Linked DNA regions of Homo sapiens: region 1 is linked to region 2. Evidence: fine-mapped expression QTL. Tissue or cell type: blood mononuclear cells. Region 2 holds a variant in brackets; the other region holds the start of a gene. All regions are shown on one strand. Distances are between the middles of the regions.

Evidence for each region. PIP is the estimated chance that this variant, and not a neighbour inherited with it, causes the effect.
Region 1: it holds the start of MOCS2-DT, and the variant in region 2 is fine-mapped to the expression of MOCS2-DT in blood mononuclear cells (TOPMed, PIP above 0.99). The same link has a PIP of 0.9 or more in whole blood.

The regions. Positions count from the first base shown.
Region 1 is chr5:53,107,094-53,112,325 of GRCh38, reverse strand. It overlaps MOCS2-DT (MOCS2 divergent transcript), which reads right to left and starts at 2,484. Exons shown (of 2, transcript NR_104654.1): 1 at 2,178-2,484. MOCS2 (molybdenum cofactor synthesis 2) reads left to right here and starts at 2,569. Exons shown (of 7, transcript NM_004531.5): 1 at 2,569-3,075; 2 at 3,683-3,804; 3 at 5,105-5,232. The coding sequence starts at 5,152. RefSeq lists a silencer at 2,541-2,830.
Region 2 is chr5:53,062,056-53,067,287 of GRCh38, reverse strand. It overlaps ITGA2 (integrin subunit alpha 2), which reads right to left. Exons shown (of 30, transcript NM_002203.4): 13 at 4,359-4,502; 14 at 2,173-2,376; 15 at 1,311-1,447; 16 at 31-170. Among named protein-coding and RNA genes, the nearest start is that of MOCS2, 45 kb to the left of the region's middle. The variant C/A (reference allele first, on the strand shown) is at 2,038.

The DNA.
Region 1 (5,232 bases), 45 kb before region 2:
TGTTTCTCATCTTCTAACAGAGCGTTCTGTGAAGGTCTGAGATGCTCCTACATTTCTAGTCTCATGGAATCTCGTCTTTTTTCAATCTGAAAACAAAATGGAAATGTTTTTGCCTCAACTTGTTTTTTTTCTTAACCAAATAGGATTCCTTATGGTAAAAATAACTGGGAAAATGGTGGCTCCAACTATGTTTTCACAAAAAATTGTAGCTTAAGTGAAATGCAAATGTTCATAAAGTCATTTTGCTATTACTAAAATAATTTATATACCATTGTGATGATTCACTGATTTAATTAATGAATTCATAAGAAAAGTAAAATCAAAGCCTATGGAATAAGCCTGGAATATTTTGGTATCAGTTTTGCTTGCATATCCACAAATTATAGATGGGGCTGTATTTTGTAAAAAAAAAAAGAACTGTGTCATATCTACAGCATAATGAATAAACGATGTGAACAGAAACTTCACAGAGAAGTATAAGTGCTCAATGAAAATATGAAAAGATTCACCTCATTAGGAATTAGAAAATAAAAAAATGAAAGCAAGGCAATATTATTGACCTATATTTACTTGAATTTATCAACAAAATAACTGGTGAAACTGATAGGATTATAAATCATCAGATTATTGTTTATTTGTAAAAGATAGTTGCTCCTAAAATATTTTCTAAAATAAAGAAGATTATGAAAAATATTAAGAAACCTGAATTGATATTTTGTAACTATATGTTCCCACTTTGGACAGTTTCCATTTTTTTTTAATATTCTGATGTCATTTACATTTTATTTTATAATCATATCCCATAATTGATATCTTAGTTTTACGTTTGAATGGGTTAAAATCTCAATGCCAGTTTTTTTAGTTTTTCATTTTTCCCATATTAATACCTTTATTGCTGAGTTATTTACTTTGATTACTCTTGATTGAGTGGACTTTTTGCCCAAGAAAGATTTTTAAGAAGGGTTCTTGGGTATTGTGTTTTTTGAGTTTTTGCTGATTTAGGAGAATCCTGCCCCACCAGTTTGGCTGTAATATTATGGGATCATGCTTTTGTTCTCAGCCTTTTTTACACACTGCACATTGCCATCAGATGCCACTGAGGAGTCTAAGGCCACTATTGTCATTCCCTTGTTTTTATGCCTGGGTGTGAATATAGTCTTTATCCTTTATGTTTAGCAACTTTACCAGGATACACATTGGTATTCATTGCTCCTTGTCAATTTTTCCTACCAAGGACTCTCCAGCCTCACTTCTCATCACCTCCTTTGCTGGAGGCACACCTGCCTTGCCAACTACTTGCCCTTCTGTGAACTTATTATGCTTCTTCATATCCCTGTGGCTTGTCAGAGGCAAGTGAAATTTCTTCGTGCTCTACTCCCACTCTTGTCATTTACTGCCACCATTCTAGCAGATTTACCTTCTCAGCATCTTCTCACTCCCCAGGTGACACAACCACTTTCCCCTTCCACCCTTGAAATGTAACACAGATCCTTAGTATTACAGGGAATTATCATTCATATTTAAAACTCTCCTACCCAGGACTGTGAGCTCCAAGGAAAGGGACGTGTAACTTACATCCACTTAACGACGCAAGCAATTTAAAGCCAAGAGTTCTTGTTGGCAAGAATTGGGAAAGTTGGACGGACAGTATACAATTACCGAGCAGCCAATAAACAGGAAAAGTCATACAGTTCGAATGTTCTGACCAGGCGGATATTCTGTCTTTAAGAAACACTAATCATATACCTGGGAAAGAAAAAAATCTTGGGCCCCTTCAAACTGGGAATTACTCAGGGCAAATCTGCCTCCTATTCTATCCAAGTCACCTCTTTTGCTGACAAAGAATAGATGCATATTCTGATTGCCTCCTTTAGAAAGACTTATCAGAAACTCAAAAGAATGCTACTGTCTATTACCTACCTGGAAGCCCCCAGTTGGGGGGGGCGGGGCTTGCTTTTAACGGTCTCCGCCTTTCTGGAAGGAACTAATGTACTTTTTACATATTGATTGATGTCTCCTGTCTCCCCAAAATGTATAAAACCAAGCTGTGCCCTGACCACCTTGGGCACATGTCCTCAGGACTTCCTGAGGCTGTGTCACGGGCATGTCCTCAACGTTGGCAAAATAAACTTTCTAAGTTAACTGAGACCTGTCTCAAATTTTCGAGGTTCACATACCGTAGGTAAAAGTGTCAGAAGCCTAAAGGTGAGCCAGTGGAAAAGCCTGAAGACCCCTGCAAGGTTATTAGCTAAGCCTCCATAACGCAGGCGGCAAGTGTCCAGGAGTCTGGCGTCTGCTCGCCTGCACCACGACCTCCCTCCTGGGGAGAAGGACATGCATGGTAAGCCATTTCTCCATTTCCATACTGATTGCTTCCTCTCACCACCACGGCCCATCTGCGAAGCAAAACTAATCCTGGCGTGGAACAGGCCGCCTGAGGGAAACAGCTAGAGCCCGGCGCGGGGCGGAGCTGGTTGTGCGCATGCTCCGTGCAGGCGCAGGCGGGGGCTGAGCGCCGTCGGGTTACGCCTGCGCTCCGGGTGAGCCCGCGCCTGCGCCTTTGCGGCCGTGATTCGGTCCCGCTGTCCTAGGCGGGATGGTGCCGCTGTGCCAGGTAAGGGTGGCGGGTGTGCGTGCGGGCCTGGGTGCGGAGCCCTCCTCGACGTGTCTCTCCCGCCCTTTCCCTCCACATACCCAGCCTTGGTCAGTCGGACCTCCCCACTAGCCCCCAACCTGGCCGGCGTCTTGGGTTCGGGGGCGCCCCCGCCCCCGCCCCCGGGCCCTTCCTGTCTCCGGGCTTTACTGCGACTGCCCCAGCAGAAGTCGGGTCCTCTCCGAGAACTCTTGTCAGCTCACGGCAGCAAGGACGGACTCGTTCTGAAGGCGCCTCCACCTTTTATGACCACCTCTTTCCCAGATTATTCGTTTTGATGAAGCTAAAATTTTAATCTAAAAAGAAATGCACCTCATGGAGAATTCTTGTGAAGAACTGTGCTTCATCTGTGGATTTCTACACCCTTGATCATTTGCAAACCTGTAATTATTTCGTAAAGAGTTGTTTGCACGGAGTGACAGGTGCCTATTTTACTTCGTCGGATCCCTTACATACCAGGCTGCTGGCACAAGTTTGTTCTAGCAAATTCCAGTCTGTCGTGTGTTTCAAACCTACTTGCTTCTGTAAATGTCAGATTTACTATGTTGCATAACTTAATCCTTAGCGTCTGGGGACGATGTTATACAGACCGGAATCTAAGGTCATTTGACAACCGTGAGAAACAGGTTTTTCGCTTATTTATTCATTTATTTTATTTGTGTAACTCATCTCTTGACTCAAACATTTGTTCTTTGCTTACATATTTATAAAAGGTGCTATACTTTTATGTCAATTAAGGCAGGCTTAACATGTTTTCCTAGAAGATAAATACTTAGGATTTTAATGATGGCACACTTAAGTTTGTAAAACTAAAAGGCATCCAGAAATTAGTCTGAATTGTATTTAAAACAACAAGTTTTCAGAATTTGAACTTGTAGGTATACTGAAATTTTTTACGGGTTATTTAATTTTCTTTATAAAATTTGTCTTTGATTAAAGCAATACATTTGGAAAATGAGAAAACTGCTCAACATTGACAGTCAGAAAACGAGTATGAGTTGTTATTAAAAGCATTTTCTTTACTTTCAGGTTGAAGTATTGTATTTTGCAAAAAGTGCTGAAATAACAGGAGTTCGTTCAGAGACCATTTCTGTGCCTCAAGAAATAAAAGCGTTGCAGCTGTGGAAGGAGATAGAAACTCGACATCCTGGGTAGTTAAAAATTTGTAGAATGCATATGAGTAACACTTAGATATTTTCAAAATACATAAATGATAAAAGTAAAAAGGTTAATTTCGATTTCCGTGCTTAATGTCAAAAAGAATCGTTAGTTGTATTTTTTTTGGAACACCTGAAAAACTCTAAATGTGCACCGTATTTTAAGAAAGGTTAAAGATATTTTACCCCAAAACACAGTGAACCGCAGAGGGACATGATTATATTCTCTTTGATAATTTACAAAACACTGCACATGTCACTTCTGCAATTTTATAACATTAAATGAAATTGTTACAAATTCTGTTAAAAATGTGTGCTTTAAACATTTTGTTCTGCCCCTCTCTTTAGAGAGCTCAACATAGAAATTTCTAAGATTGAAAGAAAAATGAGTTACAACAAATCCTAGATGCTGCTGAATTTGAGTTTTTGTAATATTTAATTTTTTTTCTGGTTCTTGAAAAACCTATAATTTTACTTATGTCATTCCCACTTCAAGTTCTTTTTGGAACAAAATATAAAAGTGACTTATTTGAGGGTGATTCAGGAATATTAATGGTGTTACTTAGCTTGTATAGGTGTTTAACCTGGAAGTCCTAGTTCTGTGTAAAAGATACTCCATAATAAGTGTTTAAAAGCAAACCACTTCATGATTTCGTATCTTTTAAGTTGCTCTTACAGTGGCCTGATAATCAATAAAACACAGTGGGGTCTCCCATTCTGCTTTACCTGGAGGGAGACAGCAGGTCTTGTATACGTTTTCACTGTGCCTGAAAAGAAAGCTTACCATTGTTCAGGTATAAAGGAACAGCTAATAAAGCTGTGTTGCAGGTGGCTTTATGACCTATGCTATCTTTTTCATCTTTCTAAGCAACTTAATCCATATTCGAGTAGGATAATGTGTACAGGCATAGTTTGTGGGCAGTTATACTTGTGCTTGAACACATGGATAGAAGGACCCTGGAAAGGCCATGTACTGATTGGAAACTTTTCTTTTGACCTGGTTTGAGTGTTGCCTCCAGTCTGGTGGGTTTTTTGTGCATTTTTTTGTTGTTTAATTCCCCAAGGCATACAACATCCAATAAAGAGTTGACAGCAGTTTAACGTATCTTTGTGGTGTATAAGTATGTTCTTCAGTGGATATGTCCTTTCTCCATATACTATGTGTAAATTTAATTGGTAATTTTGCAGGTGATGCTTTATATAATTATATCTATGTAATATCTCTAATTGCAGCTGAAGCGATTTGAGGTCTATCATAGCGTTGATACTTTGAGTCATATTTTTTCCCCTTTAGATTGGCTGATGTTAGAAATCAGATAATATTTGCTGTTCGTCAAGAATATGTCGAGCTTGGAGATCAGCTCCTCGTGCTTCAGCCTGGAGACGAAATTGCCGTTATCCCCCCCATTAGTGGAGGATAGT
Region 2 (5,232 bases):
TTCTATACAGATTATTTCAGATCTACGCACCCACTTGATTGTTTTGCTTAGTAGGTCTGAACTTTGCACTGAAGCAGAGTTTGAGAATTATCTGAGCATTCTTGTTGACCAAAGTGATTTTTTCTGGTGTGAATGAAGCTTCTATAGCTACATCAGCAATACTTTGTGACCTAAAAGACATAAAGAGTAACAGATGGATGGATGTTATTACTGAGCACACGTATTATATCCTTTATCATAGAGGACCCAGTACCAGCATTACTGAATTTTTCTCTCTACTCTCTATCAAAGCACTTTAGCAGTAGTATATATTTGAAAGCTCTAAGATGGCAGACAGAGATAATTTTTTTTTTAATTTGTGACTGCATCACTAACACAATACATGTTTAACATATTAGTTATTTATTATACTTTAGGTTCTGGGATATGTGTATTTACTCTTGATATGCTACTCTGAAATGATTTTAACTGATTTATTCAGTAAATATATTTTCTTGTTTTTTTAAAGTCTTAAGTATTATTCTTGAGTTTTATTTTTTCCACATAAAAGTTTCATTCTGCAATAAAAATAATGTACTTCATTCTTTAAAAGCACAAGTGAGATTTGTAAATAGTATCATTAAACTCAGAAATAAAAAATAATCAATGAATATTATTTTTCTGTTCTTCAAATATTTGTACATTTAAAGCACATTTTTTGACAGAGACAAATGAATGGAGATTCTTGATTGAATAAACAACTTCTTTCTGATTCTATTCCCTTGCCGGCCCAATATACTTATTTTTGACCTTGAATCACATGACCTTCACACTGTTCTCTCTGAATCTTCAACTCCTGTGGAGGTCAATGAGAGGTCAGCTAAACCTAAATAATGGCTTATTGTTTATGACTAATAATTTTAAAATATACCATTCAGTCACATAGAAGTTACACTTTACTTGTGTGGTCTGAATTTTCAGTATTTTTGAATGCACTCTCATGAGGTTTCCCTTCTGTATGCTGAGATAAGGCTATTTATAGGAAGATAACATTCAGAAATAGCCTGGATACCATTTCCAGAACTTTATGTTTTCTATGTACTGTTTTACTCACCATATGAGGAGAGAACTATATTTCTAATGGTAAGCAAATATATCTATTTTTCCTACTTGGAAAAACACATTTATTCCTTTGTGCAAACTATGATACATCGATTCCCTATAGTCTTATAGAATGCATGTGGCATTTCTATAATACCAGTACAGACATCTGTTCTGCTTTCTTAGCAGGTAATTTTTAGTTAGTTTGTGTCTGGCTCTTCCTGACTCACCAGAGTTGAACCACTTGTCCAAAGGCACCAATAGACACATCGGTGATGGAATCCCCATTTAAATCTCCATAGCCATCCAAGGACCTCCCAAAGTACTGGAGATGGCTCCTAAAGGCTCCATCGGATCCCAAGATTTTCTAAAAGAGCAGGTTTGACACGAAATTATAGTACACAACAGCTGAACCAGAAAATGGCAGCCTCTGAATTTCATTATTATATTTTCTATATAGTAATGTCCCAGATTGTGTTTATTCTCTACAAATTCTAAAGATTCATTTTTTAATCACATCTTATTATCTGATCTCTGCATCACTCTTACAGCCACATTTTCATCGAAGGGACAGCATAAATCTTTAATAAAAAATCATAAACCAGTGAAAAGATCAGTGGACTTGGAGCAAATTGATGCAAGTTCAGGTACAGGGTTAATTTCCTAGTTCTTTTCCTTCCAGTCTTACTCCAAAATTGGCTGCTCAGTGAGGCCTCATTAGTCACCCCTTCAACCACCTGATACTCCTATTGCTGAAATTTTATTTCCTATTTTAGTTTCATTTGCTTTTTTAAAAATTCCTTTATTACTATCTGGAATACTTTATCTTATCTACTTCTTTCTTTTTATTTGTCTCCTCCAATATAATATAAGGCACACAAAGATCAGAATTGTGTCTGTCCTGTTCTTATAGCATCCCCAGACTCTAGAACAGTGCTTGGGCACACAGTAGAGGCT[C/A]ACTTTATATTTGCTGAGTGAAAGAATGAAGTTACAAAATAAGGCGGACGGATTGCATGGTTTACATGACGCTTTCTATGTCTAATATGATAAGACCCACAAATACATACATCACCATAACAGCTCATGGATTACCTGGGAATACTTTGTGCGGATAGTGCCCTGATGACCATTGTAAATGTATACAGCTCCAGAATTCTGATTTTCTAGTGGTGAACCAACAATCACATCATTAAAGCCATCCATGTTGATGTCTGAAAGAGCTGCAATTGCTGAACCAAATCGAGTGTTTTCAATGCCCTCGGGGCCTTCAAGAAATTGGTGCTGACCCAAAATGCCCTTGCAAAGGGGAAACAAAAGGATGATTAAAGCAAACCTTACAACTTGTATAATTAAAATTCAGAGCAGCTGGGTGTGGTGGCTCATGCCTGTAATCCCAAAGACTCCAGAGGCTGAGGCAGAAGGACTACTTGAAGCCAGGTATTTGAGACCTGCTTGAGCAATAGTGAGACCTTGTCTCTATAAAACATTTTTGTAAAAAGTTAGCCAGGAGTGGTGGCACACAGCTGTAGTCCTAGCTCTCAGGAGGCTGAAGTGGGAGGATTGCTTGAGCCTAGGAATTAGAGGCTGCAGTGAGCTATGATCACACCAGTGCACTACAGCCTGGGTGACAGAGCAAGTCCCCATCTATTTAAAAAAGTGAAAGAAATATGATAAAATAAAAAAGAAAATAAAATTCAGAGCAATCGATGACCAAACTAATTTTTTAATATTAAAAATGGATAGAATTTTAAACCTGAACTATTTATGATCAGAATTATAAATAAGAATTTCAGTAAGGTCATAAATATCTGCTCATAAACCAAGGTCAAAGGAGATAATTCTCTTTACTGTAGCTGAACAGCATCCATTTCTTGGTCTCATTTTCCTCTCAATAATACGATCTTCATCTATTTCCAACCTTTTGATTTAAAATTTTTCTGGTGAAAATTACTAATATCTTGAATGAAATTAAAGCAGACACAGAACAAAATAAAACACAATATCTTAATTTAGGCTTTCTGTAAAAATTACCAAATAGTGACATAATTATAGTGGTACAGGAAGTAGAAAATGAGATTGTTAATATCTCCATTATTAAAAACATTAAATAATTCTGTGCAAAGGAAAAGACGTTTCCTTGTAAAACACAGTTTTTTTCTTCAATTTTATGATCAAGTATGGAAATATTTCATGACTTCACAAGAAAGCAATGTTTCTCAACCATGAAACTGGGTCAGTGTTCTTTCTCCTCTAATATAATCTTATACAAATTTTTACTGCGTTTGACACGGTATTAAAAGATCTGTTCATTTTCAACAATTAATGATAATTCAGTATATCTCACAAGTAAGAAATATTTAAAGAAGGGGGGATTTGTCAGTTTTTCAACAAGTAACTAGGTCCAGCCTTTGTTGATACTCAATTACACATTCTTTATATGTATAATTGCTTTAGAATTGTTTTAATTAATTACTTCTGTTAAAAGATTAATTTTTACATAAATATCAATAAATCAGGTGGTACAAAATATCACAATACTTAAACATAGTATTTACTATTTTAACATCAGCTTCTCCTTTTCTTATATACTAAGGAGCATATAATTTTCTATGTCAATCTGTGCCTTTAATTTGGTTTTCTTTTTTTATTTCATGGAGTTCACTACACTTATATACATGGATTTAGAGAGTTCAGTCCACAAATTGGAAAAATTATGCTTTGCCATGTTAATGTATGGTGTTTTTTTGTGGAAGGACTTGAAACTTCAAGAGTTGGATACATGCCTAAATGTTACACTAAGCAATGACACTTCCTGACAAACTAATGTAGGAAGCATCTGAGATCACAAGGAATTTACAAAGTGCTTGGTAAAACTTCTGTTTTTCACTGTCAACTGATAACAAGAAAGCATTGCCCTGTTATTGTTGTCTTTATCGCAAAAAATTACATGTGATACTAGAGAAATACACAAATGTTTGTGTGTGTGCATATTTCAATAAACGATGTGCACTTATAATGGCTTTATTTGCATAAGAGACTATATATTCAAAGACCTCTCATGGAAAATGGCAGTACACTATACATTCAACTCTAGTTTTTCCTGTTAATGTGATTTTTAAAATCATAACTTAATGGGGACATCCTCAAAAATGATGAAATGTAAACCATACTATCTGTGCAAATTATCATTCAATAATAATAAATTTTTCTTTCCAAATGCAAGTTAAATTACCAGTACTAAAGCAAATTAAACTATTAGTTTATTTTTTTTTTTTTACCTCTTTGATAGTAAACAGGTAGACTCTTCCTTCCTCTTTCTTTAGGTCACTCATGTACATTGGTGCACCTACCAAGAGCACGTCTGTAATGGTGTCTTTATCCACATCAACTGAACACAGCACACTACCAAAATAGGAGCCAATCTGGAGTAATAAAACATGTTAAACTTAGAATTCCTAGGATTCATATACTTCTAATATTACACTGAACATTTACTTGCTCATTCAATACACAAAAATTGAGTGTTTACTATTTGCAAAGTGCTTGGAACATGAAGACAGAGAGCACAGTTCCTTCCCTCAGGTTCTAACACCATCTAACACCTGGTTCTTAAATCTTAGTGTGCACAAGAATCTCCAAGAAAATGCCTTTGAAATACAGATCCCTGAGACCCATTTCTAGAGATTCTGAAGTAATGTCTAGGATGTGATCCAGAACACAGCAATTTAAATTAGCATTCCAGGTGTTTCTGATGCCAGGGGGTCAAAGACATACTTATAAGGCAAACCTTTTGTAGGTATGTGAGGTTTGTCATAGCAAAAGGCAGGAGGGGTAGAGGCAGGGAGAATAAATAATTAAGCTTCTATAGTAAAATAAATTGTAATAGAGGCAAGTCCCAAAGGCTGAGTGATCAGAGAGCAGGAGAGTCAGGAAGGCTTAGAAAGTTAAAATATCATTCAAATTGCAAAGTAAGAAGGACATGGAGTTTTCTAGGCAGAGGGAAGTGGGAAAGCACATATGATGATGTAAGTGTACATGGCATGATATGAGACAGGTAAGTAGTTGCTGGATAGATTGGGACAGGAGGACAAGGTGGAGATAAATTAAAATAAGAAAAGCTGAGACTTTGAACCTTCATCCCATTCAACAACG